2 separate regions of the Homo sapiens genome follow, and region 2 is linked to region 1. Evidence: fine-mapped expression QTL. A gene starts in region 1. The other region holds a variant in brackets. All regions are shown on one strand. Distances are from middle to middle.

Evidence for each region.
Region 2: its variant is fine-mapped to the expression of DTD1 in whole blood (TOPMed, PIP above 0.99).

Annotation. Positions count from the first base shown.
Region 1 is chr20:18,580,555-18,597,324 of GRCh38, forward strand. DTD1 (D-aminoacyl-tRNA deacylase 1) reads left to right here and starts at 7,500. Exons shown (of 6, transcript NM_080820.6): 1 at 7,500-7,561; 2 at 13,177-13,267; 3 at 15,452-15,687. The coding sequence starts at 7,519. It overlaps LOC124904878 (a long non-coding RNA gene), which reads right to left and starts at 6,911. Exons shown (of 3, transcript XR_007067547.1): 1 at 6,871-6,911; 2 at 3,559-3,690. It also overlaps the pseudogene RN7SL638P. RefSeq lists enhancers at 4,671-4,965, 7,637-8,136, 7,977-8,036 and a silencer at 7,327-7,866.
Region 2 is chr20:18,740,610-18,757,379 of GRCh38, forward strand. DTD1 (D-aminoacyl-tRNA deacylase 1) reads left to right here. Exons shown (of 6, transcript NM_080820.6): 5 at 3,491-3,662. The coding sequence ends at 3,643. Among named protein-coding and RNA genes, the nearest start is that of LCDR, 45 kb to the right of the region's middle. The variant C/T (reference allele first, on the strand shown) is at 8,342.

The sequences.
Region 1 (16,770 bases):
GGGTGGATCATCTGAGGTCAGGAGTTTGAGACCAGCCTGGCCAACATGGCGAAACCACGTATCTACTAAAAATACAAAAATAAGCCAGGCGTGATGGCGCACGCCTGTATCCCAGCTACTCAGGAGGCTGAGGCAGGAGAATCGCTTGAACTGGGGAGGTGGAGGTTGCAGTGAGCTGAGATCAAACCACTGCACTCCAGCCTGGGAGACAGAGTGAGGCTCCGTCTCAACAACAACAACAAAAAAAGTGAACCTATCTTTCCATGGCAGAAGAATCACCTGCGTTTTCTGAGCATCCATGCCTTTTGAAGAAGAGTATGTATCTGCTTGTTCACTAACGGCGTTATGTCTCTCAAATGAGAAAGTTCTTTGTGTATGCTCAAGCACTTCACTTGCACATGCCATTGTTCTTAGGAGTAAAGTATGTTTTAGACATTCCTGAAAGCCAGATGTGCAATACCTTCTTTCTTTCTTTTTTTGTCTGTGGACACTAGATTTTGCTATGTTGCCCAGGGTGGTCTCAAACCCCTGGGCTCAAATAATCCTCCTGCTTCAGCCTCCTAAAGTGCTGGGATTACAAGTGTGAGGCACCATGGCTGGCCTCCTTCTTTCTTATAAATCCAGTCTTCTGTAGTCCTCCATCTGTGTTGCTTTCTTCACTATGGTAACCCAGGCAATTACTCTTCCCATCAATACTTGCCTGTCCTTTGAAAGTAGGAATATATATCTATATATCTATATCTATATATATATATATATTTTTTTTTTTTTTTAATAGTGACAGGGTCTTGCTCTGTGACCCAGGCATTATAGCTCACTGTAGCCTTGAACTCCTGGGCTCAAGCGATCCTCTGCCTCATCCTCCTGAGTAGCTGGAGCTACAGGCACACACACCCATGCCTGGCTAACTTTAAATTTTTTTTGTAGAGACAGTCTTGTCATTTTGCCCAGACCAGTCTCGAACTCCTGGCTTCAAGTGATCCTCCCGCCTCAGCCTCCCAAAGTGCTGGGATTACAGATGTGAACCACTGCACCTGGCCTACATTGGTGTTAACATACTTCAGCAGGCCAGTTTAGCAGTGTGTATCAAAAAGGAAAATGGGCACAACCTTTCACCCAGCAATCCCACTTTCAAGAACTTAAAGAGATAAATGAAGAGCTGTAGGCAGAAGGTTCTTCATTGTAACTTGTTCAAAATGACACCGAACTGAAATCAACCTTTTGAGAGACACTCCCGGCTGTCTTCCCAACATCCACTTCCCCCATTCCTGCTTTATAACAGACCCCTCAATCCACCCCACCATGTGCTTCAGGGGGACTAGCCTAGCTCCAGAGGGCAAGTCCTGATTGGTCCATGTCAGTATTTCTCAAAGATGGCACTGCTGGCATTGTGGACAGGATGATCCATTCTGTAGGCTGCCCCAGGTGTTGCAAGAGCTTGAGAATTTCAAGTCCCCTGGACACTGAATGCTACCAACAGCCTCCCAGGTCCAGATTTTCCTCCGTACACACATCTCGTGCACCCTGGAGAACTGTCTCCCCTGCAGGTGAGAACCTCTTGTCTGAGCCAGTCTTGGGTGAGAGTATGCCCCGTCTCCCTTACCAGTAATTCGCATAAGCATGGTGGTGTGACCTCATCCTGGCGAGTTAAGTAGGAGGGCCTCTGAGCAAGATATCCTAGCTTCAGTGGAAGGGCCAGGAAGAGATGGTCTGCTGTTCATCAGGACATTGTGTCTGGGTGGGGTGCCTAGAACAGCCACAGCCATCTCTCAGGCTTGTGGGGTGCCCGAGAAAAGCCAACATGCTGGGGTGACAGAGCAGAAAGAGGGAAAGAACTGGGTTCCTGATCTTGGTTAACTTTGGAGCTGCCTTGTCAGGTCAAATATATTTCTTCTTTCTCTTTTTCCTTTTTTTCTTCTCGTGGCACAAAGCACACAACATACAATTTACCATGTTAACCATTTTATGTGTGCAGTTCAGTAGTGTGAAGCATATTGACATTGTTGTGAAACAGATCTCCAGACCTTTTTAATCTTGCAAATCTGAAATTCTGTACCCATCAAACAACAATTCCCTTTCTCCACCCCCCAGCCGCTAGTAACCACCATTCATCTTTCTGTTTCTGTGAATTTGACTACTTCAGATATCTCATGTAAGTGGAATCATACAGTATTTGCCTTTTTTTGTGACTGACTTATTTCAAGTAGCATAGTGTCCTTAAGATTCATCCATATTGTAGCATTTGACAAGATTTCCTTCTTATTAAGGCTGGATAATATTCCACTGTATGGATATACTATATTTGTTTATCCATTCATTTGTCAACAGGCATTTGAGTTGCCTCCACCTCTTAATCATTACGAATAGTGCAGCTTTGAACATGGATGTTCAAATATTCTTTGAGAACCTACTTTCAATTCTTTTGCACATATACTCAGCAGTAGGATTGCTGGATTATATGGTTGCTGGGTTATTACTTCTATTTTTTATTTTTTGAGAAACCTCCATATTGTTTTCTATAGCAGCTGCACCATTTTACAGTCCTATCAATAGTGCACAAGGAGGGCTGGGCATGGTGGCTCACATCTGTAATCCCAGCACTTTGGGAGGCCGAGGTGGGTGGATCACAAGGTCAGGAGTTTGAGACCAGCCTGACCAACATGGTGAAACCCTGTCACTACTAAAAATACAAAAATTAGCCGGATGTGGTGGCGCGCGCCTGTAATTTCAGCTACTCAGCAGGCTGAGGCAGGAGAATCGCTTGAACCTGGGAGGCGGAGGTTGCAGTGAGCCAAGATTGTGCCGCTGCACTCCAGCCTGGGTGACAGAGCGAGACTCCATCTAAAAAAAAAAAAAAAAAAGTGCACAAAGGTTCCAATGAAATAACACATTTCTTTTTTTGAAATGGAGTCTCACTCTGTTGCTCAGGCTGGAGTGCAGTGGCATGATCTCGGCTCACTGCAAACTCCGCCTCCTGGGTTCACGCCATTCTCCTGCCTTAGCAGGGCATGGTGGCAGGCGCCTGTAGGCCCAGCTACTCGGAAATAACACATTTCTTAAAAGTTTGAGCCATTTTGAGTTCCATGCAACGAAAAAACATCCCAACTGATCCAGACCTAAATATTCGTCAATAGAAAAAATTGTTTAGGGGAATTACAATGCATATATTAGCTCTTAGCATCTGCACATCTATTAATAGAGAAATACTGTAAATCCATGATACACTGTTAAGCCAAAAAATTGGCTTCTCACACTTATTCCTTTGGCAATATTACCTGAGCCCCAGGTACTGTGTTAGATGCTGAGGATTCAGTGGTAAGCATGAGAGACACAGGTAGAAGAACACAGCTTACCAGGCAAATAGACTCATTGAAAGTAGCCAGAAGATTATGAGAGAAAACCCACAGGACAAACATGAGAAAAACAGGGAGCAGGAACACCTACTTTTCTTGGTGTGGACAGAGAAGGTCTATCTGAGGAGGTGGCATTGAAGCTGAATACCTAAAGGCAGGAGAGGAGTGTGTTGTACAAAGAGTGAATGAATGTAGAGGAACCTACCTGTTCCAGGTGGAGCAAGAGCAGATCCTAAAGTCCTGAGCTAGCAACCAAAGACTATTTGAGGAATTTAAAGGTGGTCAGAGTCTGGATTGTTAAGACTTTATATTCTAAGAGCATCACTTTCATCTGTGCCTGGAGAATGGATTGGAGAAGGACAAAGGGGAGGTAGGAAGACCAGTGAGGAAGGTGTGGTAGAAATCCAAGTGGGAAAGAATGGTGGAGCAGGATGCTGCAGGAGGGATGGAGAGAAGAGGGCACTTTGGGATAGGTTTTGGAGAGGGAGAAGATTTGCTGATGGACGAGATACTTAGGGAATGGGGAAGAGAGCAATCACAGGTTACTTCTGGCTCCAGTAAACAAGTGGAGCCACTTATTTAAGTGGGGATTTTCCAGGTGCGATGGCCCATGCCTGTAATCCCAGCACTTTGGGAGGCCACGGCAGGCGGATTACTTGAGGTGAGGAGTTTGAGAACAGCCTGGCCAACATGGTGAAACCCCATCTCTACTAAAAATACAAAAATTAGCTGGGCATGGTGGCAGCACCTGTAATCCCAGCTACTCAGAAGTCTGAGGCAGGAGAATCACTTGAGCCTGGAAGGTGGAGGTTGCAGTGAGCCAGAACGAGCCATTGCACTCCAGCCTGGGTGACAGAGCGAGACTCTGTCTCCAAAAAAAAAAAAAAAAAAAAAGGTATGACTCTTATGGTGGAGTATGAAGGGCTTCGGGGTTCATTGAACACCAACTGGTGAATTGCAGTTCAACTCTGGCAGGAATCACCTGGAGTTAGAACAGATCCTGCAAGTTTAAGGGTACGTTTCCCAAAAAGATTGCCCCTATTTCAGGTGCCAACCACACTTGGGTGTCCCCAAACCACTTGCACTTCAGACCAACTGGCTACACAGTCAGGAGTATCCATGACTCCCTAGGGTTGATAATGCACTAGAATCACTCATGGAACTGAGGAAAGTGCTGTAATTATCATTTATAGTTTTATTATAAATAATACAAATTAGGACCAGTCAAATGAGATATGTTAGGCAAGGTCTGCGAGAGTACCAAACACAGAGCCTCTGTGCTTTCTCCCTGCGGAATCAGGGCCATTACCCTCCCAGCACATCAATGTGTTCAGCAACCAGGAAGCTCAATGAAGCTTCAATGTCCAGAGTCTTTCCTGGGATTTCATCATGTAAGCATGACTGATTGAATCATTGGCCACAGGTTGAACTCAATCTCTGTCTTCTACCCCTCCCACAGGTTGGGCTGGCTCAGACATCCAGTCACTATTGGTCTTTCCAGTGACCAGCTCCCAATCTGAATTGTCTTGTTAGTAAACTCAGGAATAATCAAGGAGCTCATGAATAACAAAGATACTCCTGTCTCTTGAGAAATTCCAAGAATTTTTAAAGCTCCATGCCAGAAACCCAGAATTAACAAAGGCCAAAGTCTTTATTGTACCATAGGGGTGAACATTTTGAATTCCATTTTAAGTATGTTAACTTTTTTTTTTTTTTTTGAGACACAGGTTTACTTTGTCACCCAGGCTGGAGTGCAGTGGCAGTGATCCTGGCTCACTGCAACCTCCGCCTCTCGGTTTCAAGTGATTCCTGTGCCTCAGCCTCCCAAGTAGCTGGGATTATAGGTGCCCACCATCACGCCTGGCTAATTTTTGTATTTTTAGTAGAGATGGGGTTTCACCATGTTGGCCAGGCTGGTCTTGAACTCCTGACCTCAAGTGATCCACCTGCCTCAGCCTCCCAAAGTGCTGGAATTACAGGCGTGAACCACCACGACCAGCCCAATTTTCCCTTTTTTAGTCTTATTCTTTCAGGAGTGCACAATGGAGTTTTCCAGGGGCTCCGTGACATATAGTGACTTCATTGCTCTGATATTCATATGTAGGGGATTTATTATTGCTATTTTTAAATGCATTGATAAATCCATGTTAACTATTTCTCTTAGTTAAAAACAGTAAACATTTTTAGATATAATCCACCTAAACAAAAGCTATACTTTGTGCCCAATAATTTTTAAGAATGTAAAGGGATCCTGTGATCAAAATATTGAGACCTGCTGATTTTTCAAAAACTCAAATTTTACCAGTTGTTCCAATAATAAGCTTTTCCTTTTCTTGATTTTTCTGGCCAGGATACCACCCAGGTTAATTTAGTTTTCCTGTCTTTTTTTTTTTTTTTTTTTTTTTTGAGACAGAGTCTTGCTTTGTCACCCAGGCTGGAGTGCAGTGGCACGATATCGGCTCACCGTAACCTCCGCCTCCCGGGTTCAAGCAATTTTCTTGCCTCAGCCTCCCGAGTAGCTGGGATTACAGGCATGCGCTGCCATGCCTGGCTAATTTTTGTATTTTTAGTAGAGACGGGGTTTCACCATGTTGGCCAGGCAGGCCTCGAACTCCTGACCTCCAATGATCCGCCCACCTTGACCTCCCAAAGTGCTGGGATTACAGGTAGTTTTCCTGTCTTTTAAAAAGTCCACGGCTGGGCGCAGTGGCTCATGCCTGTAATCCCAGCACTTTGGGAGGCCAAAGCGGGCAGATCACCTGAGGTCGGGAGTTCGAGACCAGCCTGACCAACATGGAGAAATCTCATCTTTAATAAAAATACAAAATTAGCCGGGCGTGGCGGCGCATGCTTGTAATCCCAGCTACTCAGGAGGTTGAGGCAGAAGAATTGCTTGAACCCAGGAGGCAGAAGTTGTGGATAGCCAAGATCACACCATTGCACTTCAGCCTGGGCCACAAGAGCAAAACTGCATCTCAAAAAAAAAAAAAAAAAAAATCCTCCTTAATTCTCGGAATCCTACCTGGTTATTTTGTAGAATGTTCCTCAATTTATTTTTGTCCTATGTTTCATCATGATTGGATTCAGGTTATACATTATTTGGCAGAAATACCACAAGATTGATGTTGTGTCCTTCCCAGTGCAATATCAGGAGGCACATGATGTCTTGTTACTGGTTATGTTAACTTTGACAACGTTATTAAGGCAATTTAGTATTCAGTATTTAACAAACAAGCACACTAGTTTGTAGTCTTTTCTGGGCAAGTGAGGGTTTCTTCTCAATTTCAGTGCCTTTTCTACGCCCACCAATGCTATTAGTCACCTTTAAGGTGAAGACTGCTGAGATGGAATTATTTTTAGCAATGATAATAATTTGTTGGGGTAATAGTTGTACAGCCCTTTGCTGCCATCTAAGCACTTTTACGTGGTTTGGTTCATTTAAATCTAACAACCCAGTGAGGGGGCCAATTAGTAGCATTTATATTACATGAGAAATTAGAATTCTAGAATCACATACCTATTTATTATCATGACATGGCTAAGTCGAATTAATAGTGAGATAGGTAAATGGCTATTTTAGGCAGCAGATCCTTTTGTATGTGGTATCTGAAAAGCCACTGAGGCAGGAAGACAAGGAAGAAGAATTTGGGAGGATCTGCGTGCAGAGGAGTGGAAGAGGAAAGAGGAATACAATTAGAAATAGGATTCAGGCTGAATTTAAAGGCTTAGTGATGACGGGTTCTTAGGTTCGGGTATGTGGGAGAAAAAAACCAGCATAGAGACTACCTTCGGGGCAGAGTGGGTTCTGGGCACTGGGTAGGGGCTGGGCCCGGGATGGGGGGATCAAAGGGCTCTGGCGGGACCCAGATGTGGATGGGGCAGGGCCGAGCGTGGGGACTGGGCTTTTCAATGACGGGCGGGGTTACGGTTGGGCAGCAGGTGGGCGTGGCAGGCATAGGCGGAGTCAATCTATGAGTGGGTGGGCCTATCGCCAGGCCGAGAGTGGGCGTGGCCGACGTGGGGTGGGTAGCAGCCGACCGAGTCGGACCGGCCAGTTGGGCGCGCTTCCGGGTGTCACCTCCAGAGGGCGCCGGCTGCGGAGCCGCCCTCAGAGTCGCGAGGCCGGACGCAGCGCGGCGCCGCCCCACTCGCCCCAGCCGCCGCCATGAAGGCCGTGGTGCAGCGCGTCACCCGGGCCAGCGTCACAGGTCAGTCGGGCGGGGCCGGGCCCGGGAGGAGCCGCCCCTGACCCCCGCGACCGGCTGTCTTGCGTGGGGGGTCTTCCTGCGCCATCCTTGGGGCCGCTGCGGCCCCTCCGCGAGCCTGGTCCCCTTCGCGAGCTCGGTCCGCGCAGCCGCGAGTCCCCAGGGCCGGCTTCGGGGCAGCGCGGCGGCCGGAGAGCCCCCTGCACGTGCCCGACCGGCCCCGGCGCGCCCCTGGCTTCCGGCTCTCGGCAGAGGGTGCAGGACCAGCGCGCCTCATTCTCAGCACCTTTGTCCTGCGTGCGGGATGGCGGAGCCTCGGAGCATCTCCGTGGTCCGCTCTTCAGGGAGTGTTGATGAACCACGCTTAGAGCATTTCCGGAGCAGGCACTCCTCCCTTTTCACTGCTGTATTTTAAATGTTCAATTTTTGCCCATTTTTACGTATTCCAATTTTTATGGGGCTTGACTCAGGATGAAATGCACAGATGCGGAGAGTTGCTCCTTGGGCTGAGCTTTGACAGTTGCGTGCACGTACGTGACTGGAGCCTAGGCTGGATGAGGGGCGCCCCCTGCCCAGGACGCCCCTCGCCCTCGCCCGCTGAACTCTGCGCGGAGGGGTCGGGATCTAAAGAATTCAAGATGAAAACATTTCTCTTTTTCTTGTGGACCAAGCTACCCGACCCCTGGTCATCACTCAGCACTTTCGTCTCGGTTGGGCATCAGAGGTCCAGATGATTAGTGTAGATAAAGTAGTCGTTTTAAGAAAACCACGGTACGAAAGATATTTTTTAAAAAACATTTAAATGACAAGCTTTATATTGTCTTTAGTCTTTTCTGTCTTTATTGGCACAACTATATTGTTTCAGTTCAAATAATTTCAGATATCCTGTCCTTGGAGCCAGTCTGCACCAAATATGCGTTCTTGTGTCCACAAAAGTATGAATTAAAAACAAAACAGGCCGGGGGCTGTGGCTCACACCTGTAATCCCAGCTCTTTGGGAGGCCAAGGCGGGCAGATCACCTGAGGCCAGGAGTTCGAGACCAGCCTGGCCAACATAGAGAAACCCTATCTCTACTACAAATACAAAAATTAGCCGGGAGCGGTGGTTGGTGCCTATAATCCCAGCTACTCGGGAGGCTGAGGTAGGAGAATCGCTTGAACCCGGGAGGCAGAGGTTGCAGTGAGCCGAGATTGTGCCAGTAACCTCCAGCCTGGGCGACAGAGCGAGACTCTGTCTCAAAAAACAACAAACAAACAAAACCCCAAAACAAAAAACAAAACAAAACAAAAACAACAAAAAACCCTAAAGAAACAACCAAACCCACCAAAACCGTATATTTAAATCTAAGAGTCTATTTTTCAACCCCGCCTAATGATTTCTAAGCTGTTCTGGTAGCTTTGGTTTTGGAAATGGTCCTGGAATAATAGGGAATAGAGTAGCACTGGGATTTAGGAATTTTAAAGCTTTTATAACATTTCTGTAGATATTTAAATTCATGAAAACTGGGAAAATTCATAGATGAAAGATGTTTTGCATTATTGAGAAGAACCTTGCAGTCTGCTGCTGTGTGTGGTCGTCACTGACAGATTTAAATTTTGATCTCTCTCCTGAACTCTCCATCCTGCTAATCTGGAATATTGAAAATGTGTATTCTGTGAGATGTGCTGAATAAGAGTTTGGGTTATTTTGGTTCACTATTTAAGTTATATGCTTTCAGTTAAAACAACCAAACCTGCATATTAAAAAAGATAAGGGTGTTAATTATGGGAAAGTGTAAATAATTCGGGAATTCTGGGTTGGGGAACTGTGGAATTCTGTTAGAAGGGCCCTCCACTTATGCAGGCCTTCTAGTTGCATTGTAATGGAAAGGGATTTTCTGATTCCTTTAAAATGTGGCTGGTTTCACTGAAATGTGGCTGTGTTTGAATGGCATTTTATTTTAGGGGTTCTAAAATGTTAACTTCCTGTTTTATGGTCAGGACAGCATAGATTATCAGGAGTCACACATTTTATTTTATTTTAAAATAGTTGGTTGACTTCACATTTATTTTAAATTTATGCATTTATGGTTTGTTTGTTTTAGAGATGGGGTCTTGCTCTGTCACCCAGGCTGGAGTGCAGTGGCACTATTATAGCTTACTACAACCTCAAACGCTTGGGCTCAAGTGATCCTTTAGTTTCAGCATCCTGAGTAGTTAGACTACAGGCGTGTGCCGCCACCGCTATGTCCAGCTTAGGAGTCACACATTTTACTATGTGGTATATTCAATTTATGTGATTGGTCAAACACATTTTTTTTTATAGTAACCCTGTAATATCATTTGATGCCCAGTCCATCAGATTTCTCCAATTGGCTAATTGGTTTTGTTTTTGTTTTGAGAGAGTCTTGCTCTGTTGCCGAGGCTGGAGTACAGTGGTGCCATCTCTGATCACTGCAGCCTCTGCCTCCTGGGTTCAAGCGATTCTCATGCCTCTGTGTCCTGAGTAGCTGGTCTTACAGGTGCGCGCCACTGTGCCTGGCTAATTTTTTTGTATTTTTAGTGGAGACAGGGTTTTGCCATGTTGACTAGGCTGGTCTCAAATTCCTGGCCTCAAGTGATTTGCCTGCCTCGGCTTCCCAAAGTGCTGGGATTACAGGCATGAGCCACTGCACCCAGCTTGATCAAACACATTTTGATGCCTTAGGTTGGGTACTGTGATAATCTAATTTTTAAAAGTTTATTATGGCACATTTCAAACATATTAACAGACGGAATAGGGCAATAACCCCCATGTCCCATCATTCATTGTCAGCAGCTAAAATTTGATGTCTGTGAACAGTGTTGGAAGAGGATCTAAAATGTTTGGGTTTAACTAGGTTAACTTCAAAGGTTATGAATTCTTGAAGTAGAGATCTCAGGTCTGATGCCACTAGTAGGTAGAAAAATTGACCAAACATCTCAGTCTTTTCCAGCCCTTTGATCTTTTGTTCAAAGTGGTGATTCTCAGATTTTTTCCCTTGGTGATCCATTTACTTATAATAAAAAATCCTTTTGAATCTCCTAGTCCTTCTACTTGTCCCTGGAGGGGGGACAAAACTGCTCCAAAATAAGACAGCAGTCTCTGTGTCATATATAGACTTTGGGCCATAATTTGTTTCATGTTAAGATAATTATAAAACTGTCAAAATTCTTTGACAGTGATTCTAGAATCTAAGCAGATAATCCTAACTGTAGAAAAGGCTTTAGTGTACGAAGATTTTCACTACACTGTTATTTACTGAGGTGAAAATTTTGAAAGAAGCCATATGTCCAGCAAGATGGAATGGTTAATCAGTCTACTTGATGAGCTGAATCTATTAAAAGGTGTTTAGGAAAAGGTTATGACATGAAAAAATTCTTATGCAATATTATTATAAAAATTTATATGCAATGTTATTATAGTAGTTGAAAACAAATATGAATTAAAATGTATGAATAGATACAATATTAAAAGGAAATCATTAAAATATTAAAGTACTTACCTTTGTTCTTTTTTTCATGTTTCTCATATTTTCTAAAATATATAATCCTTACTTTGATGATAGATATAACTTCATGACCTTTATTTTTTAAAACATACTTTGGGAAAAATTTAGAAAGTATATCAATATTGTAAGAAAGTAATGTTGATTTATTCAAAGAACAAATAAAGCCAAAGGCTTTTTCTGAAGCAATGCAAATGAGCAAACCAACCCCCAATTGTTTACTGCCTATGTCAGGATAGATTATTTCTATTTCAGCTTTTGAGGCAGTGGCTCAAAGGACAATAAGTCACACACACATAGTTCATTATAAGAAAAGCAGCACAGAAGAAAAGATTTAAAAAATTTTAGCCTAAAAATAAAGAAATTAAGCATTACTGATATTTCAGGAATGGATTGATGTGCTCTGCTGGGATCTGAATAGCAGGTGGTCTCTTGCCATTGCAACTGAAGAAAGAGGGAAGTTTCTCACCCTTTCTTTAGCAGTGTATTGTAACATGACATAGTCTATGTTACTGTGTTAGTTATATTTATAGCTATTACCCTGCAGAAGCAAGCAAACAGCAAGAAAATGGCTGAGGTGACCCTTCTATTCCGATTAGCACATTAGGTCAGTACAAGATGAAGTAGTAAAATAACATAATCTAATAAGATTGGCAAATAATTGGCAAAAAATAGAAAATTTTCAAAAGCACCACTTGAAATACAGATTTAGCTGGGTATGATGGCGTGCATCCATAGTCCCAGCTACTCTGGAAGCTGAGGCAGGGAGGATTGCTTGAGCCCAGGGGTTCTGGGCTATAGTACACTATGCTGACCTGCTGTCATACCAAAGTTCTGCATCAATATGGTGAGTTCCCAGGACCAGAGGACCATCAGGAGGGATGGACCAACCTAGGTTGGACATAGAGCAGGTCAGAACTCCTGTGCTGATTAGTAGTGGAATTGCACCTGTGAATAGTCACTGCACTCCAGCTTGGACAACATAGAGAGATCCTGCCTCTTAAAAAGAAAAACAAATGAAAAAAAAAACAGGGATTCTCCATCATAAAGATGCATCTTTTTTTTTTTTTTTTGAGATGGAGAGTCACTCTTGTCACCCAGGCTGGAAGGCTGGAGTGCAATGGTGTGATCTTGGATCACTGCAATCTCCACCTTCTGGGTTCAAGCGATTCTCCTGCCTCAGCCTCCTGAGTAGCTGGGATTACAGGCGCCCGCCACCATGCCCGGCTAATTTTTGTATTTTTATTAGAGATGGGATTTCGCCATGTTGGCCAAGCTGGTCTCGAACTCCTGACGTCATATGACTGCCTGCCTCAGCCTCCCAAAGTGCTGGGATTACAGGCATAAACCACCATGCCCGGCCCATAATGATGCATCTTGCTACCATTTGAGGTATCGTCTAGTGGTAGTAGGGCATACATTTGGTTATAAATACATATACAAATGTTAGGAGTGTGTGCTTAGAGCCTTTTTTTTTTCAAATGGACAAGATGCATGATTGAAAAATATTTGGAGATCATTGGCTTAGAATGTAACCACAAAACTAAACTGGGAAATAATAGCAGTTTGGTGAGTTGAAGCTTAATACATAAATTGTGATTTTTATGTATTATGTATTTGTCCTCATAGTAAGTAGGAAAATCATTTATGATATGAACATTTTCCACTTTGTGCTTCCTGTATACTGTGTTACCATATTTTTTGATATTCTGCAAAAGGCAGGAATCTCTTTTCTGAGAATTAATATAGCTGAGCTGGCTTCTCTGGGGGAGGAAAACACAGTTCTGTTTTTATAGATGGGCAAACTTGACCATAGAAAATTTTGGGTGTCTTACCCAAGGTAACATAGATGAAATATGGCCCTAAGATCCTGCTTAATGGTTGTTCACTTTACAGCTCCCATTCATTCCAGAGATAAAATCAGAATGGATGGGAATTATTATCATCTCACTGCATTTATGTAACTCTTTTCATTTTCGAATACGTACTGACTTTAACCAAAGAAGTTATAAGAAGTATGTATGATGTTTAAAATACTCCTATGGTTACTTAAAAGTGCTTTATGACCTTGTTTGGTTCTGAGTTCTTCTCTCCCTTTTGGTTCCTTTCTAGTTGGAGGAGAGCAGATTAGTGCCATTGGAAGGGGCATATGTGTGTTGCTGGGTATTTCCCTGGAGGATACGCAGAAGGAACTGGAACACATGTAAGATGCATTTCTGTCATTGCTGTTTGAGTGGGCTATGTGGTGGTGGTCATGCTGGGAACTTCCATAGTACTTTGTGCCTGTGAGGTGAGCCCCTGTCACTTTTAACCATTGTCCCATTGGATGTAGTATGGTTATCTCCGTGTTTCAGAGAAGACCGAGGAAGAATGATTTAGGAGACCTCAACGCTAAGTCAGCCTTTGAGCAGGAGCACCGCCTGTCCCCTGTCTGTTTGCTACTGTGGCCTCAGAGCATGCCTCTTGTTCTCTTAACGCAAAAACCAAGCCTCTTTTCTTATGTTTGGTTTCTCTTTTTTAAATTGGGCAGTTATCTGGGCACTATGTATTTTTAGAATGTCTACTAGCTCGCTGTGCACATAGGGATCTAGAACTCAGAGAGGTTAAATTGCTTGCCCCAGATCATGCACACACACTTAGCAAAAAGCCTGAACCCCAGTTAGAGTCTGGGCTCCCTGACCTTGAAGCCAGTGATCTTTTTACTAAGGTGGTGGCGGGGGTTGAGGAGCAGGGGTTGCCATTGCTGCTGCCTGCCTGGCTCTCTGAGTTTATAGATGGGCAAACTCGACTATAGAAAGGTTTAGGTGTCTTAGCCAAGGCAGCACAGATGAAATATGGCCCTAAAATCCTGCTTAATGATTGTTCACTTTATAGCTCCCATTCATTCCAGACATAAAATCAGAATGTGCCCTCTGTGCACCTCCTCCCCTCCATTACCACGGGGCACATTTACTTTAGATGCTGGATCCATTTATTCTGCCCCTTGGTGCTCAGAGCTTGGGTATAACCCTGCCCAACTGATTCTTTTGTGTTAGATTGAAAATCAGACTTGAAACTGAATTCCTGCTAAGGTGTTGATGATGGATAACTATCATTCAATACTATTTCAGTGATGGTGGTATTTTAGTAGCTGTCCTCTGGATACTCAAAGAAGTGGTAGAGTGGTGTAATGGCTAAAAACTGAGGCTGTGGGTTTGAATGTCTTTATGGCTCTGACATACTACAGAGCTAATACTTAGCCTGGTGCTTAAGAGATGTGATTCAACATAAGACAAATCTTGGCTGTGGAGAGGGGGTAATGAGTAGCACCTGTCCCTGAGGGTGCCCATATTAAGAGTCAGTTAATTAGTATTTATAGAGTCTTTGAAACTGTCATCTACTTAACATCATCCAGAAGGGTGGCTCTCAAATGGTGAGATTTCAGCTTTCATGCTGGTGGTTCTCTGCTGTGCTTCTCAAATCTGACCCTATAGATGTCACCTGGTCAACTTTCTTGCCATGGTGACTATCCTTCTTCACATGTATAGGGAAAGCCCCTCTGGGGCTTAAGGAGCTTGTGACATAGTTTTCAAGGTGTCTTTCTCCAGATCTTTTTGCATATTTGCAATAACCATGATTTTTCTCTCAGTGTATTTGCTGAATTGTTCTTTCTTTTTTTTTTCTTTTGAGACAGAGTCTCCCTCTGTCACCCAGGCTGGAGTGCAGTGGTGCAATCTTAGCTTACTGCAATCTCTGCCTCCCTGGTTCAAGCGATTTTTGTGCCTAAGCCTCCTGAGTAGCTGGGATTAAAGGCGCCCGCCACCATGCCTGGCTAACTTTTGTAGTTTTAGTAGTAGAGATGGGGTTTCTCTATGTTGGCTAGGCTGGTCTTGAACTCCTGAACTCAGGTGATCCACCCACTGTGGCCTCCCAAAGTACTGGGATTTCAGGCATGAGCCACCGTTCTCAGCCGAATTGTTCATTTTGAGTAGCTCCAAGAAGGGGTTTAAAAATGGATGTCATTTATCCTAACATGATGAATTCGTTCATGAAAAATTACAATTGGACCCATGTTTTGACATATCCCCGACCTAAAGGAGCAGAGAATAGGTGGTTGTCATCTTAGCCCCAGTTCTCACCAGTAGCTGCTATGAACTGGAGCGACTGGCAAAAAAGAAGCAATCTCAAAACAACCGTGTGAGGTAGAACTGTTATTATTCTGTATCGCAGCTGAGGACACTGAAGCACAGGGTGGATAAGTGACTTGCCTGAGGTCATGCCTCCTGTCAGGGATGGAGTCATCATTATGTCCTTATTTGACCGGAAGCTGGTGACATTTTTGGGGTATGGAGTGTGTTGGGGGGCTTGTGATCTCTCAGGTAGCTCTCACTGCTCTTTTTCCCCTTAGGGTCCGAAAGATTCTAAACCTGCGTGTATTTGAGGATGAGAGTGGGAAGCACTGGTCGAAGAGTGTGATGGACAAACAGTACGAGATTCTGTGTGTCAGCCAGTTTACCCTCCAGTGTGTCCTGAAGGGAAACAAGCCTGATTTCCACCTAGCAATGCCCACGGAGCAGGCAGAGGGCTTCTACAACAGCTTCCTGGAGCAGCTGCGTAAAACATACAGGCCGGAGCTTATCAAAGGTAAGCAGGAGAGCCACATCCAGGAACGGGTCTTTGGGACACTCCTGGATGGAGAGAAAAAAGAAGCTGCAACTGCAGCATCTCCTTTTCTGGAAAGTCATTGTTTATGCTTGTTACTTACTTAGAACCACATACTAGCTGCTGCTATTGCTGCTGTTGTACTTAACACATGTCCTCAGAATGCTTCTGCTGGCATTTGCCCTCCTCCCTTCTTCTGTTCACATTTTGAAAATGTTTGGGAACCCAGAGGTGTGGCTAATACAGTGGTATTTCTTTGATTGTTTAGCTTAGCCCTGTCCAATAGAAGTATAGTGCAAGCCTCAAATGTGAGCCAAATATGTCATTTTAAGTTCTTGTAGCCATATTTAAAAAAATAAAAAGAAATAGGTGAAATTAATTTAAAAAATATATTTTATTTAACTGAATATATTCAAAATATGATTTTACTATGTAGTCGTTATAAACAATGATGAGGTAGTTTACATTCTCTTTTTTTTTTTTCTAAATAAAGGCTTTATTTGATTAGAGCAGTTTTAGGTTCACAGTAAAATTGAGAGGATGGTACAGAGATATTCCATATATCTCTGCCCCCGCATGCATAGGCTCACTCATTATCAACATCCACCACTAGAGTGGTGCATTTGTTACAACTGATGAACCTAAGTTCATTGTTGGATTATAACTGTTGTTCATGGCACATCATTATCACCCACAGTCTCCTGTTGGCACTAGGGTTCACTCTAATATTCTCTGGGTTTGGGCAAATTTATAATGACATGTGTCTACCATTACAGTATCATACAGAATATTTTTTATTTTATTTTTATGATTTTGTTTCTTTTTCTGTTCTGGCTTCTCAATAAGCTTTTTTGACCTAGTCTCATAGACTCTCTCTTTTAGTAGATGAGAGAAAGTGTGTGTGTGTGTGTGTGTGTGTGTGTGTGTGTGTGTGTGTGTGTATAGAGAGAAGGAGCTATAGATGGTGTTTTTGTTCTCCTAATGGTTATTTCTAAGTTTTTAACATTCATGAATAGTTACAAAAATTTCTATCAAAATTTATAAGGATCTTAGTATATTTGAACA
Region 2 (16,770 bases), 160 kb after region 1:
AAAAGAAATTGGGGAGTCTAGCATGGATTGCTAACTTATGATTTCCAAAATTGCTTAATTTTTTAAATTATAGTAAAATACACATAAAACTTACCATCTTAACCATTTTAAGTGTATAGCTTAGTAGTAATGGGTATATCCACATTGCAAAAATCCAAAATCTGTTTGCAAGAAAGGGAATGAGACAGAAGGAGTCCTGTATACTGTCCTTATCATTTCATCAAAGAAAGAGCATTTTAATACCAGAAGACAGACGAAAGGAAAGAAGCCTGTTATTTTAGATGCAGGAAATTCCTCCTAACCTGTGGCAGAATAGTCAAGAGAAAAATATTTTTCCATGGAAAAGTAATACTACAAAGAACTATGTAACAAGCAGCTCTGTGTGGCCATTTCTCAGATTTTAAAAATGCTAGCTTTTTGTCATCTTTGCTCCAGATCATTCATTCCTACTTAAAGTGCTGCTGCATGAACTGTTTGTTACCAGGCCATGGCGAAACAAAGAACAAAACTGAGACGGCATCTTACTTTTTAAAACTAAAATTGTACTTTCTCAGCATCTAACTTGGACCTGTTCATGAGTATTTATATATGTGTGTATATGTGTATGCACACTCACTGTCACCCAGACTGGAGTGCAGTGGCGTGATCTCGGCTCACTGCAACCTTCATTTTGGGCCAGAATGAAGTCAGCTACACCACAGAGCTCACAGTTGAGAAGAAATCTCTCACAATACTTTGCTGATGAAGGAAGCTATGTACTGATTTACATTCTGACACGAGCATCTTACTGTTGCTGGTCCAGGTGTCACGTGCATTTTGTGGAGTGCACTGATTAGTAACTCTGCTCTAGATCTGGTTTTGTTCTTATAAAGTTGATGGTTACAGTTGAAGCCTGTATATATTCATTCCACTAAGATCCCATTATCCTCTTTCCCCTCCATGTTAACTAGTGTATTGAAGTTGGCGTGTATTCTTCCAGGCCATACTGTATTTGCATGAGCTCACTAGCTATGTAGAGTATTATTTTGTGTTAGTGGAATCCTACTGTATATAGCCTTCTGAAGCTAAATTTGTTTTGTATAACATGATTTTCAAGATTTATCTATTTTTTTTAATTAAAAAAAATTTTTTTTGAGACAGTCTTCCTCTGTCACCCAGGCTGGAGTGCAGTGACATGATCTCAACTTACTGTAACCTCTGCTTGCTGGGCTCAAGCGATCCTCCCGTCTCAGCCTCCCCAGTAGCTGGGACTACAGGCATGTGCCACCACGCCTGGCTAACCTTTGTATTTTTTTTTTTTTTTTTTTTTTGTAGAGACAGGGTCTCTCTATGTTGCCCAGGCTGGTCTCAAACTCCTGAGCCCAAGCAGTCGCCCACCTTGGTCTCCTAAAGTGCCGCTATTGCAGGCATGAGCCACCACCTCTGACCAAGACTTGGCTATTTTGATATATGTAGATCTACTGTACAATATTGCTTTAGGGGACCAGACCACATTACACGTATCTGTCCTCCTAATGTTGATGGACATTTGGGTTGTTTCTAGGTTTTTGCAAATACAAATGACACTACAGTCCATGTTCTCAGAAGCCCCCACTGTGCACACAAGTGGAAATTTATCCAGGGGAGTTTTCGGAGGAGAGTTGCTGAGTCAAAGGTGAAGTGATGTCTTCATTCACAAAATCTAATTAGTATATTAACCAAACTTAGCTGTATTCTACAGCTTTTCAGGTAAATGGGGAGTAGGAAAGAATAAGCCAGGGGTCCTCAACCCCCAGGCCAGGGACCGGTACTAATCCCTGTGGCCTGTTAGGAACTAGTCTGCACAGCAGGAGGTGAGCAGCCTATGAACGAGCATTATCACCTGAGCTCCGCCTCCTGTCAGATCAGCAGTGGCCTTAGATTCTCATAGGAGCGGGAACCCCATTGTGAACTGTGCATGCGGGGGATCTAGGTTGCAGGCTTCTTATGAGAATCTCACCAATGTCTGATGCTCTGAGATGGAACAGTTTCATCCTGAAACCATCCCCTCTTCTGTCCCCCATCTCACAGAAAAATTGTCTTCTATAAAACCGGTCCCTGGTGCCAAAAATGTTGGGGACCACTACTATAAGTCAATTATTAATAAATTTGATTTCCTGGACCCAATTGAGAGCTACTGGTTGGTTGTTCATCTCTCGAAGGGTTAACTCAAAGTCTGTTCATAGTGGAAGAAATGATCTGGCAGATTGGGGGAAGTGAATCCTCTTTGTGTCTTGGATGTGGGGCAGGGACCAGCAGGGAGAAGCCAGCCCTTCAATAAGTTTCCTTCTTTTTATGTAAACTAGAAAAAGTTCACAGACTTAGTCTGGGAGGGAGATAAAACTGGGTATTGCTGTCTCTTGTGTTTTTTGGTCTAAGAAAATTCCGTGGTTCAAAACTTGGCCGGTCTTCTCTGCTGGGTTTCTCAGCAGGCTTTCCTGTAGTGGCTGGGCTGCTGCTCAGTGTTAGATGATGGAAGCTTCTTTCAGCCATCTAGCTGATGCTTTCTTTGAAGAACTATTCAGGGAAGAAGTGGGCCCAGGTTCCATTCGAGTGAGACATCAGGGGCATGTCCCCTGCTGGCCTGGTGGGAGCCTAAGAAGGCTCTAGTGGCCAGTGTCCTGAGTGTTGCCACCACGCAGCCTGCAAGCAAGTCAGCCTTCAGTCTCAAATCAACTGGTAACTGAGACGGTGTTCAGTGTGCTTAATGCACTTTGTTTCACAGCCTTCTCTGTAATCTTCAGCAAAGAGTAATGTGTTTTGAACATTCTTTAGAAAACACGTGGTGTGGCATGGTGGCTCACACCTGTAATCACAACACTTTGGGAGGCCGAGGTGGGTGGGTTGCTTGAGCCCAGGAGTTCAAGAACAGCTTGGGCAACATGGTGAAACTCTGTTTCTACAGAAAAATTGGCATGCACCTGTAGTCACAGATACTTGAGAGGTTGAGGTGGGAGGATCACTTGAACCCAGGAGGTTGAGGCTGCAGTGAACTGTGACCGCACCACTGTACTTCAGCCTGGGCAACAGAGTGAGACCCTGTCTCAAAAAAAAAAAAAAAAAAAAGAAAAGAAAAGAAAAAAGAAAACAACAAGTAGAAGGTAACTTGATGAGAAAAAAAACTATCAAAGAAAAAAGTAAGAGATGAAAAGCCTTCATATATGGAGCTCTTCTAAGGCTGTTGAAGAAGGCTGTGGCATGACCGCTCCCTCATACTGTGTGCCAAGTTGAATTATGGTTGGGGAAAAGTCTGAGAGTGATTACTCCTATGACTAATGATTTGTTTCAGTGATTCAGGTGCCTGTTGGAAAAACATTCTGTGTATAATTTGGTATATCTGAACCACTGTGCTCTGCCAGGTTATCAGAAAAAAACTTTTCAATGGTTCCCACCTGGGAAGTCACTGGTGTGTGGGATACACAGGCATGTGTTTGTGTTTGTAAAATATTCTTTTTTATTTTTATTTAATCAGCTGTCAAAGCTCGAAAAACAGCAGCAGAGGAAAGAAAAGACCAGAGCTAAGGGACCTTCTGAATCAAGCAAGGAAAGAAACACTCCCCGAAAAGAAGACCGCAGTGCCAGCAGCGGGGCTGAGGGCGACGTGTCCTCTGAACGGGAGCCGTAGCTCAGGAGGCAGAATTCAGGTAGGAGTTTCCCTGCTTGGCTTCATCTTCCCACATTTTGGGGAAGCAGCAATGAATAGGAGGGAATAGCTGCTGAGGCTGAATTCATTCATTTCACAGCGTTCATCCATAGCTTCCTTAAATCTGCTGCCTTCCAGGATGGAGACAAAAGTTAGTGTGTTAGTCCGTTTTCACGCTGCTGATAAAGACATACCTGAGACTGAGTAATTTATAAAGATAAAGAAGTTTAATGGACTCGCAGTTCCACGTGGCTGGGGAGGCCTCACAATCATGGTTGAAGGCAAAAGGCATTTCTTACATGGCGGCAGGCAAGAGAGTATAAGGGTCAAGCACTCCAGCCTGGTGACAGAGCAAGACTCCATCTCAAAAAAAAAAAACAAAAAACAAGTGAAAGGGGTTTCCCCTTATAAAACCATCAGCTCTTGTGAGACTTGTTCACTACCAAGAGAACAGTATGGGGGAAACTGCCCCCATGATTCAGTTACCTCCCACCAGGCCCCTCATCTTGAATTGTAGTTCCCATAATTTCCACGTGTGTGTTCCTACGTGGGAATTATGGGAGCTACAATTCAAGATGAGATTTGGGTGGGGACACAGCCAAACCATATCAGTTAGCAAATAAGATTGTATTTTATTCATTGAGATGCAGGAGGGTGGCATACCACAGGCCTGGGGTGCCCACCTGGGGGTGGAACCTGTTTGTGCCACCTTCTCTGGCTGCCTGTGCCAGTCCACAGCTGCTGCTGTGATTGCCTGTGCAGAACACTCACTCACCGATACAGAATCCAGATGCAGATGCAGAGTCCACTTGCGCTCCTGCATCTCCCTTCCTGCTCTTAGCCACTCTAGCAAAGGGCACTGCCATCTCAGCAGCCTACTTTCATTGCCACCTGCCCCGTGTTCTGAAATCCTTCACAGTGCCCCGTGTGGCACTGTGAGTTTACTTTTCCTAAAATGGCATTTTATTCTTATTGTGGCTCACTGTAGCACGGAGTCCACCTCCCTGCCTGAACATCAGAGGCCTTGAAAATGTGATGCGGCCATCTGATGGCACTGTGCCTAGTTCCTCCCACCAGGGAACCTGTTTATTTTGCCAAGCACTGGACCAAATACTGGGTGCAGATTTGAGGGACCCAGGACCTGTCATGGGGAGGTCACAGGCTCAGGGAGAAGCATAGGAACAGTTATACTACAGCACGGTGCGTGTGGCAGGAGTGTGAACAGGTGTGGGGTGGAGATGGGAGGTCAGGAGAGGCCCCTCAGAGGCCTGGGACCAGATCTGGAAGGACAGGTGGCAGTGGGGAGGCAGATGAGGGGCAAGGGCAGGGGAGAGCTGCCTGAGCCAAGAGAAGAGCAGTGCAAATGCCATCTGGAGGTTGGGGGGCAAGGACAGGAGAGTTTGGGAATGGAGGAATTGCAGAAGGGTGGGAGTGTTGAGTGCCAAGTGGAGTGGGAGGGCAGGGAGCATCTCTGAACTTAGAGAAATAGGAGGTCTGGATTGTATAGGGTCTGGTATGCAACCCTGAGGAATTTGGATTTTATCCTGGGGCGGGAGGGACCTCTGAAAGGTTTTAAGTGTACAAGTGACATCATCAGATACAAAGTTTAAAAAGAGCACTCACTTGAGCAGCTTTGGGGAGTGAGGCTGGAAGCAGATAGGCCCATTAGGAGGTGATTGCAGAAGTCCAGAGAAAAAATTATAGTAGGAACAGAGGGGAAAGAGTGGGATTGAAAGATGTAAAGGAAATAGAATCATTTCAACGTGGTGACTGATTAGATTGGAAGAGGAGACATCCAGAAGGATGAGGGAGGAAGATGGGGGTTGCTGACGGTACCTATTTTGGGTGTGTTGTGTTTGAGGTGCCTGTTGGCAGCCAATGGTGATGCCAGTCGTCTGCTGAGTCTGTGGCTTTAGAGCTGGGGAGCCAGGTCTCGGACATACAATTTGGAGCCTTCAGCTCACAGACTGTGGTTAAAACCAAGTTAGGAGACAGAATTCACCCAAGAGACACCAAATTATGATAGAAGAACATCCAGAAGGTGGTTTTCAGCCTTCTCTTTCTCTTCTGAAAGAGAGCAAGGGTCAGAAGTGTACCTATGAAATGGCTTTTAGGATCCACAATACCAGGAAGTGAGATATATTAGGCCAGGTGTGGTGGCTTACACCTGTAATCCTAGCACTTTGGGAGGTTGAAGTGAGAGAATCACTCGAACCCAAGAGTTTGAGACCAGCCTGGGCAACATGGTGAGACCCCCGTCTCTTAAAAAAAAAAATTAGCTGAGCATGGTGGTGCTTGCCTATCATCCTAGCTACTCAGAAAGCTGAGGTGGGAGGATTGCTTGAGTTTGGGAGTTGGAGGCTGCAGTGAGCCATGATTGCAGCACTGCACTCCAGCCTGGGTGACAGAGTGAGACCCTGACTCTTAAAAATAAAATTTAAAAAAGATACATTAGTTGTAATTGGGCACAGTGGCACCAGCTCCCAAATGGATACACAGACGAGAGGAACAGAATGGAGAGCTCAGGAAGGGTGGATTGTTGGTTCATAGACAGTTTTAGGGGAGGGGACTGGACAGTGAGTCCTGTTGTCCTCTTAACTGTTCCCTCATCACTGTGTTTTCCTGCTAGTGTTGTGCAGGGAGACAACAGCACTGTGGTGACCAGCCTTGGCTTATGTATCTCACGTATGCATGGGACACTGAAGGGTGCCTCGAAGGGAAGGGACGTCACATAAAACTTCCACTCCCACCCCTCCAAAACTTCATGATAATTCACTTTTGTTAGTGGTCAGTTTTGGCATCACAAATATTGCTGGTGCTTCTGATTTATAGTCTGTCCAGAAATCCTTAATCCAAAGAGGTGAAATGTGCTAAGTGAAGACAGGGCACAGAGTGGCCCTTTAAGATACTTTTTCAGTTGTGCTAGTTAAATGGGTCAAGCAGTAATTCAGAAACTCATCGAGGTCTTCTTTCCATCCTGCTAACTTTTGGGTGACAGTGAGTAAGTTCTATGGTTTTTCTTCTATTGGAGGAAAACTCATCTCCGTCAGCAGTGCTTTGTGGAAGGCAGGCAGGTAGAAGTCATGGTGCCTGGAACTGGCCCCAGCAGCCTGGGCAGGGCGGGGGCAGGCATGTTCCCTCCCCGCCATGTTTCTGTGTTTTCTCAGGCTTCTCTGGATCACAGGGAAGCATGACAGAGAGAGCATCCCAGCGCTGCTCCTGTTCCTTGAATGAAAGGTGCAGGGACTGTTACTGGTTAGGCCAAGTTTTAGTAATTACTTGGTCCAGAAGCAAAACTCAGATTGGACACTCCAGTTTCCACTCCTGGGGTTCAGGGCAGCTTCCCAGCCTTAATGCTCAGGCATGGCCCATGTCTCTTCTTCCAGTTCTGTTGAAGACTGTACTTAATAGTCTTTCCTGCAGTGAATTGGGACCTTAACAACAGGTTCAAAACAACTTGGGCTGGGCATGGTGGCTCACGCCTGTAATCCCAGCACTTTGGGAGGCCCAGGCAGGCGGATCACGAGGTCAAGAGATCGAGACCATCTGGCCAATATGGTGAAACTCCGTCTCTATAAAAAATACAAAAAAAAAAAAAATTAGCTGGGCATGGTGATGCGCACCTGTAGTCTCAGCTACTCAGAAGGCTGAGGCAGGAGAATCTCTTGAACCCAGGAGGTGGAGGTTGCAGTGAGCCAAGATTGCGCTACTGCACTCCAGCCTGGCGACAGAGTGAGACTCCATCTCAAAAACAAACAAACAAACGAACAAAACAAAACAAAAAAACAACTTGAATGTTCAGACTCCCATCATGAACTTAATGAACGGGAGAGGGAGAAACATACAAGCCCCTGTCTCCCAGCAACCAGACCCAGATTATCAAGCTAAACACACTGGCACGCATACACACACACACACACACACACACAAATACAAATTCACATGTGCCTTGGAGGTTTGTATTTTCAAAACAGCTTAAAAAATTCAAATACCACCTAGCTGATTCCTTCCTGGGTTGTATTATTAACCTAATACATTTTATAAATTTAATGTCTTGATTTTTGCTTTATATCTGATCAGTGCTTTGAAAATCTTTGGTTTAATCTATGACGGGGTATTGAGTTTTGTTACTTTTAAAATTCATGCAAAACATAACAACTTAAAGACTTCCATTTGCTTTAGATTTGGCCTCAGAGTAATTCCTGTAGAGAATACACCATGGATGTTAGTGTTCTGTGGCCCCTGGGTAGCCTGGGAGTAATTCTGCTAATTCTGTGGGCAAGAAAAACACCCGAGGGTCTCATGGGCAGACAAGGGGACAGTTACTGCATGTGTCACAGAACATACAGGAGAACACGCTCATAGAAGGAGAACTGAGCACATAAAAAGAAGGGCAGGAGGAGGGTGTGAACATTTCACATTTTTCCCCAGTGTCTAAGTTTACGAGGGGAATTCTCATGGACTCGTAGGTATCTACTTCTTGCTTCTCTCACGTTAATGACATTTTAATAATGTATTTATTTCCTTCTCACGGTAGTGCAGATTAGGTAGCATAGAACTTGGGGTCAGTGGTGCTATTGTGAATCACCCAAATAGGGCCAGCCACAGAGGGGAGGCAGCAGGGGGAGCAGACCCCACGGGAAGTGTTTGGAAAGGAGGAGGCAGTTGTGTTTTTCCTTC[C/T]CCTTCCCTATAAGTCAAGTTCACTGCAGCCATGCCATCATGGGGCCCTTGGGAAGAGGCAGGCAAAAGAGGAGGAAGAGGGCAATGGAGGGAAGTTCCTGGCTGGCCTCAGCCTTCAGGTTAGGAGACTCAGCGGGAAGGAGCAGAGGGACAGATGGAGGGGAAGCTGAAGGCCCCTGGCATGTTCTGGCTGTGCTCCAGGCTGGGATCCTTGGAGTGGGGGAATGGGGGTTGGGTTGCAGGAAACTTGGAAGCCGTGACAGGGATTCTGGAGGGAGAGCAGTGCAGGTGGCTCCAGGGCTCCAGGAGGCAGCTGCAGCCCAGTGAGGTAGCAAGACACGGTCAGGCCTCAGGGCCTGTGAGAGTGCTGCTCAGCATCGCCGTGGGGTGGGGAAGGCTCCAGAGGGTGTTCTCTGCCTGGTGGAGGGTGTGGAGGAAAGCTGTGTTGGGTCTGTGGGCTGACTCTCGGTCCTGGATAGAAGTGGTGAGGTGAGCCTGCTGCAGAAGCCATGAGGGGGCAGCTTCATTAGGAGGTTGGGGGTCATGGCCTCAGCTCTTCATAGCACTGACAGTCCCTCCAGGTCTCAGCTGTGACCTCCACTGGCCTCCTGGATGAGACTTGCAGGGGTCTGTCATTAATGACACCTGAGACTGAGTGAGATATGCTGGTGAGAACTGAGACGAGGCCAGGTCAGCCAGAGAGGGCCTTGGGTCCCTGAGCAAGAGACACCAAACTTCAAGTAGCCCACCGTCCCTCAGTGGTGCAGTGTCAGGGCCCAGGTGCTGAGCTGCACCAACCACCCTGCCACAGAGGACACTGAGGACCCAGAGTACTGTTGACATTAAGGTGAAATGGAGCCTCTGTCTGGTCAGGAACGCCCCTATTGCTACTCAGCGCATGGAGGCTCATGAACAAGTTTAGATCGGCCCATGAAAGACAGAGGCCACGTTTTGTTTATACCGATGTATATGGTACTGTCTGGGTTTTGGACAAAGCGCACAAGGAAAACCATTTATTGATGGTTTACCATAGGCATCCAGTTGTTCTTCTTTACGTCAGGGTCAGCAGTGACGGTGTCAGGCATGGACAGATGTCCAGGCAGGGAGGAGTCCTTCAGAGCCGCCCACAACTAGCCGAGGACCAGAGCGGGGCTGGGTGCTCCTGCTTCCGAGAATTTAGCCATGTTCCTGGATTTGAAGATCCTAAACGGGACCAGAACCAAGTGACAGCTGGCATTCCAATGATATATTTGGGGTTTTTTGTTGCCCGTGGGTTTTGTTCCCCCTTCTGATGAAATTTGTCATCCCAGTAGGCCACAAAATCACCACCAAATATTCAGATATCTATGAGAGCTGGATTAAATGGTGACAGACAGAAGGTGACCCTGACATTTGTTTTGTTCCCCAGAACAACAGCAGCCCCCTCACTATGAAGGGAGTAGCACTTTTCATTTGCTTTTCTTTAAATACAGAAAGAGCCCTAGGGAATCTGGCAGGCCCTAAGGGGAGCAGCTTTGAGTTTCCAAGGCACGAGAGAGAAAGAAAAGGCAAAAGAAAATTGAATGAGAAACTGCATGATCTTGGGCATATTTTTCTTTGAAAATGATTCAAAAGCCTTCATGGTTCAGAGGACATTTCCAGGGCCTTGACATTTCTCTGTCACATTGCAAATGTTGCTTCTTATTTTACCAAGTGGACATGAAACTGCTAAAATTAACTGTGTTTTTGTCCTCTGTCTCAATCCTTCGGGCTCTCTCACCTTGCTGGGAGGAGTTGAGGTTTTCTGTGAGGATGCAGCTCTATTATTTCTCCTTTCTGGCCACTGCTAAAGGCACTAGGGCCACCTCTCACTAAAATGATGTGGTTTCTGATTTGATTGCAGGGTCAAGTATTACCTCATTTGAGTATTGACTTAGCTGCTGTAATTAGGGTGTGAGAGGAGTGTGCTCCTGACTGGCACCCCACATTTCTGTCCTCAAATGGCAACACACTTGAAACCAAACAAGAAAGTGTTTTGGAAGCTGCCATCTGTTTGCTTTTTCAATGTGACCTTTGTCTGAATAGTAAGATGTGTCCTGGCTGAGCACACTTCTTCCTAATGAGCTACAGCAGCCGTGTGTGTGTGTGTGTGTGTGGGTGTGTGTTTTCTGTTGAAAAGGTATTCAGTCCCTTTTCACTGTTCTTTTCGCCATACAAGGTAGGACTCCTTTCATTCTCTGAGCTTCACTTTGCTTCCCTGTATCAACATTTGTACCACATTCTCATGTCCATGTGCTGGTATTTCATGGTATAAAACTAGCTGTGTCTCTGGGTAGTGTTTTTATCTTTTTTTAACTTAAAACAATTTTTTTAGTGGTTGCCCTGGAGTTTACAATATACATTTTTAACTAGTCTAAGTCCACCTTGAATGACACTCTACCACTTTACCTGTAACAGGCACCTTATAACAACAGCATATTCCCAGTGACATTGCTATCATTCATTTCACTTTACATATGTGATACTCACCTAATACATTGTCACTATCATTAACTTAAATAGTCTTTTTTTTTTTTTGAGGTGGAGTCTCATTCACTCTGTCACCCAGGCTGGAGTGCAGTGGTGCAATCCCTGCTCACTGCATCCTCCACCTCCCAGGTTCAAGCGATTCTTGTGCCTCAGCCTCCCTAGTAGCTGAGATTAAAGGCATGCACCAACATGCCTGGCTAATTTTTTGTATTTTTTGTAGAGATAGGGTTTTAACATGTTGGCCAGGTTGCTTTTGAACTGCTGGCCGCAAGTGATCCACACACCTCAGCCTCCCAAAGTGCTGGGATTACAGGAGTGAGCCACCATGGCCGGCCTTTGTTTTTGAAGGATAATTTTGCTGGTATAGACTTCTAGACTTGTAGTTTTTTTTTTTTGTTGTTGTTGTTGTTGTTGTTTTAATTTGCCTTTCTTTAAAAACACAAAGAGCCCTAGGAGCCTCACAGCCCTAGAGGAGCAGCTTTGAGTTTCCAAGGCATGAGAGAAAAAGAAATATTTAAATATTTTCAATACTTAAATTTTTATTCCTCTCTCTCCTTGTTTGCAGTTTCTTATGAGAAGTCCCCTGTAATTCTCATTCTTATTGCTCTATAGGTAAGGTGGGTTCTCCTTACCCCACCCCCAGCCCCCAGCTTCTTCAAAATTTTGTCTTTGGTTTTCCGCAGTTTGGATATGACGTGCCTAGGTGTGGTTCTTGCTTGGTATTTTCTGAGCTTCTTGGATCTGTGATTTGATGTCTGTTATTAAGTTTGGAAAGCTCTTGGCCATTAATACTTCAATACCCCTAGCTTCATTCACAATTTCCTCTCTGTTCTCTCTTCTCCTTTTGGTATTCCAATTATATATATGGTACATCTTTTGCAATTGCTCTACAGTCTTGGATAGTCTGTTCTTTTTTTCTCATTCTTTTTCTCTTTGTTTTTGGTTGGGAAAGTTTGTAATGACCTATCTTTGAGCTCACTGATTCTTCCTTGGCTGTGTCCAGTTTATTCATGAGCCCATCAGAGGCATCCTTCATTTCTGTTACAGTGTTTCTGATTTCTATTATTTCCTTTTGTTTCTTTCTTGGAGTTTCCGTCTCTCTGCTTACATTACCTATCTGTTCTTGCATATTGTTTACTTTTTCATTAGAGCCCTTAACATATTAATCATAGTTTTAAAAAGTTCCCTGTCTGATAATTCCAACATCTGTATCATAGTCCCAGTCTGATTCTGGGGATCTTTTTGGGTCCGCTGACCTTGAATCTGTAACTGTATGGCTTTCAGTACATTTGGGACATTTTAAGTAATATCTATTCAAATATTTTTGTCTGCCCCATTCTTCTTCTTACCTGGAGGTTACTGTTCCCAAACCTTAAGTGTCATTCTGGTTTTTTATTATCCATGAGGTTGGTTTGCTTCCTCACTGATGCAGAGTAGCATGTTATATTACTTTACTAGTAGTGGGACTGGATTTTCTCTATGCCCAGGCTTCCACCTCCATTACCTTATTTATTAGAAAATAAATTGGCCATTACCTTATTGATTAGAAAATAACTGGCCATGATTAGTGATTCCATCTATTGCTAAGGTGCAGAGCCAGGCTTACAAATAATTTAGAGTGTGCCATCTAATACAGTAGCTACTAACTGCATGTGGCTATTGAGATGTAAATTAAAATTAAATAAAATTTAAAATTCACTTTCTCAGTCTCAGTAGCCATATTTCAAGTGCTCACTAGCTACATACAGCTAGTGGCTGCTATTCTATCATTGCAGAAAATTCAACTAAACAGCACCAACCTGTAGGGATCAAGTTATGATTTTGATACTGTCATCTGAATCACTTTAAGTACTATAAGATTGACATTGGCTGGGTGTGGTGGCTTATGCCTGTAATCCCAGCATTTTGGGAGGCCGAGGCGGGTGGATCACCTGAGGTCAGGAGTTCAAGATCAGCCTGCCCAACATGGTGAAACCCCGTCTCTACAAAAAATACAAAAATTAGCCAGGTGTGGTAGTGTACGCCTGTAATCCTAGCTACTCAGGAGGCTGAGACAGGAGAATCGCTTGAACCAAGGAGGCAGAGGTTGCAGTGAACTGAGATCGCGCCACTGCACTCCAGCCTGGGCAATGAAGCGAAACTCTGTCTCAAAAAAAAAAAAAAAGACGTTGATATATAAATAAGTACAATATACATGAGAAATAATAGATGGGAGAATAAGTTAAAGCCAAAAAATAAAAGCCAATTGCTGTCAAGGTTTGTTCCTACCACTTTCAGGTAACATCAATTTTTTCTCCATGCTTGTTTTATTGCATTGCATTAAGCTTTCCATTCGTAATTAGGAAATCATTCTTTTCATGTTCTATCTGTGAAGTCAGGACCATCAGCTCTCAAGCAAAGGAAGAGATTCCGATTCTGGGGATCTTTTGACACTTCAGTGGAGGGAGCTTGCTGGAATCTAACAGTGCTAGAAGGTCAGAGTGAAGCCTGCATTGATAACTTCCCAGCATCTCTCATGTTTTTTGCATAGAACAGCCTTACCTTTCTAGGTAAATGAATTCTGATTTGATTACCAGCTAAGACCTGAAATAAATAGGTAAAAAAAAAAAATCTTGGTCCTTTTAACAGTGATGTGGAGAACAGATCTGTGGCATGTGTGTGTTTTGTCTAGCACTTGCATCCTGTGGTTGCTTAAATGGCCTGAAGCCAGAAGCAGGTCAGTTGGAAGTCAGTGTCTTTGAGGGTTTCAGTGTTTACGTGGGCTGTGAAGGGTTTCCTTTCTTCTGGTCCTGGTCTGGCCTCACTGGAGATGTTCCTCACTGTCCCTCGTGGTTGACGGCAGTAAGAGAACTACTACAGCAGGTGGAGGAAACTGGTGGTTCCCCTAGCTTCTTTCATAAGACTATGAAATTGTGGTGCTAAGTTATCAGGCACCTCTTACTACTGCCTGTCAGGTGTCCCCAGCCTCTGGGTCATGTCTGCCCTCAGTAGCTCATGTGACGCACATGCGTTTGGAAATAGACATCATCCCTTCAGTAGCTCTTAGAGGGAGGCACATTACCCCTTATCCAGGGTTTCTGAATTTCAAGCCTCAATGGTCCACCCTTTTCTGGAGAACCATGTGTTTAGCTTGAACAGGACTTCTGCTCAGCACTTCTAATTTGGCAGATGGACCTCACAGATAGCTCACTCCCACCTTCCTCATTCAAGCTTCCAGCTATGTGAGCTGCGTGGTCTCCAGCTACTCCCAGTTGATGGCCAGTAACCTGGCTCCTGGGTTATTCTATAGTTCAAGAAAATAGGAAGAGACATCTTTAGCAAGTGAGACTAGAAATAGAGAGCAACGTCTATTGACCAATCCATGTATTGTAGTGGGCGGTGGCTTTCAGCTGGAACAGTGTCCACTGCTGGCCAAAAATCTCTTGCATGTAGTTTACAAATCACTCATGATACTAACATTGATCTTATGATTAGGCCAGCCCATTAGTGTTCCCAGTAGTAGCACAGTTAATTCTAAAGGCATACCTAATGGATTGTCCTTCAGGTTAGATGCTTTATAAAGTTCTTATGCCTAGGAAGTTTACCTAAAAACTTTAAGAACCCATTGGCCAAAACCTCTCAGGATCCCTTCCAGTTCTGTGTTTCTCTAGTAGGGAATAGAAATTCCTAAATCATCTTTCTCATATAACATTTCTTTTGAAAGCCATTTTTTTTATTACAAAGTTAATGCTCACTCATAGAAAATATCAAAAATGCCAAAATACCCGAAGAAGAAAATAAAAGTCATCTGCCACCTTATCATTCTATGATTATTATTATTTTTTTATTATACTTTAAGTTTTAGGTCCATGTGCACAACGTGCAGGTTTGTTACATATGTATACATGTGCCATGTTGGTATGCTGCACCGTTAACTCGTCATTTAACATTAGGTATATCTCCTAATGCTATCCCTCCCCTCTCCCCCGACCCCACAACAGGCCCCAGTGTGTGATGTTCCCCTTCCTGTGTCCATGTGTTCTCATTGTTCAGTTCCCACCTATGAGTGAGAACATGCGGTGTTTGGTTTTTTGTCCTTGGCGATAGTTTGCTGAGAATGATGGTTTCCAGCTTCATCCGTGTCCCTACAAAGGACATGAACTCATCATTTTTTATGGTTGCATAGTATTCCATGGTGTATATGTGCCACATTTTCTTAATCCAGTCTATCATTGTTGGACATTTGGGTTGGTTCCAAGTCTTTACTATTGTGAATAGTGCCGCAATAAACATACGTGTGCATATGTCTTTATAGCAGCATGTTTTATAATCCTTTGGGTATATACCCAGTAATGGGATGGCTGGGTCAAATGGTATTTCTAGTTCTAGATCCCTGAGGAATCGCCACACTGACTTCCACAATGGTTGAACTAGTTTACAGTCCCACCAACAGTGTAAAAGTGTTCCTATTTCTCCACATCCTCTCCAGCCCCTGTCGTTTCCTGACTTTTGAATGATCACCATTCTAACTGGTGTGAGATGGTATCTCATTGTGGTTTTGATTTGCATTTCTCTGATGGCCAGTGATGATGAGCATTTTTTCATGTGTCTTTTGGCTGCATAAATGTCTTCTTTTGAGAAGTGTCTGTTCATATCCTTCGCCCACTTTTTGATGGGGTTGTTTGTTTTTTCTTGTAAATTTGTTTAAGTTCATTGTAGATTCTGGATATTAGCCGTTTCTCAGTTGAGTACACTGCAAAAATTTTCTCCCACTTTGTAGGTTGCCTGTTCACTCTGATGGTAGTTTCTTTTGCTGTGCAGAAGCTCTTTAGTTTAATTAGATCCCATTTGTCAATTTTGGCTTTTGTTGCCATTGCTTTTGGTGTTTTAGACATGAAGTCCTTGCCCATGCCTATGTCCTGAATTGTATTGCCTAGGTTTTCTTCTAGGGTTTTTATGGTTTTATGGCTAACATTTAAGTCTTTAATCCATCTTGAATTAATTTTGTATAAGGTATAAGGAAGGGATCCAGTTTCAGCTTTCTACATATGGCTAGCCAGTTTTCCCAGCACCATTTATTAAATAGGAAATCCTTTCCCCATTTCTTGTTTTTGTCAGTTTTGTCAAAGATCAGATAGTTGTAGATGTGTGGAATTATTTCTGAGGACTCTGCTCTGTTCCATTGGTCTATATCTCTGTTTTGGTACCAGTACCATGCTGTTTTGGTTACTGTAGCCTTGTAGTATAGTTTGAAGTCAGGTAGTGTGATGCCTCCAGCTTTGTTCTTTTGGCTTAGGATTGACTTGGCAATGCGGGCTCTTTTTTGGTTCCATATGAACTTTAAAGTAGTTTTTTCCAATTCTGTGAAGAAAGTCATTGGTAGCTTGATGGGGATGGCATTGCATCTATAAATAACCTTGGGCAGTATGGCCATTTTCACAATATTGATTCTTCCTACCCATGAGCATGGAATGTTCTTCCATTTGTTTTTATCCTCTTTTATTTCATTGAGCAGTGGTTTGTAGTTCTCCTTGAAGAGGTCCTTCACATCCCTTGTAAGTTGGATTCCTAGGTATTTTATTCTCTTTGAAGCAATTGTGAATGGGAGTTCACTCATGATTTGGCTCTCTGTTTGTCTGTTATTGGTGTATAAGAATGCTTGTGATTTTTGCACATTGATTTTGTATCCTGAGACTTTGCTGAAGTTGCTTATCAGCTTAAGGAGATTTTGGGCTGACATGATGGGGTTTTCTAGATATACAATTCATGTCATCTGCAAACAGGGACAATTTGACTTCCTGTTTTCCTAATTGAATACCCTTTATTTCCTTCTCTTGCCTGATTGCCCTGGCCAGAACTTTCAACACTATGTTGAATAGGAGTGGTGAGAGAGGGCATCCCTGTCTTGTGTGAGTTTTCAAAGGGAGTGCTTCCAGTTTTTG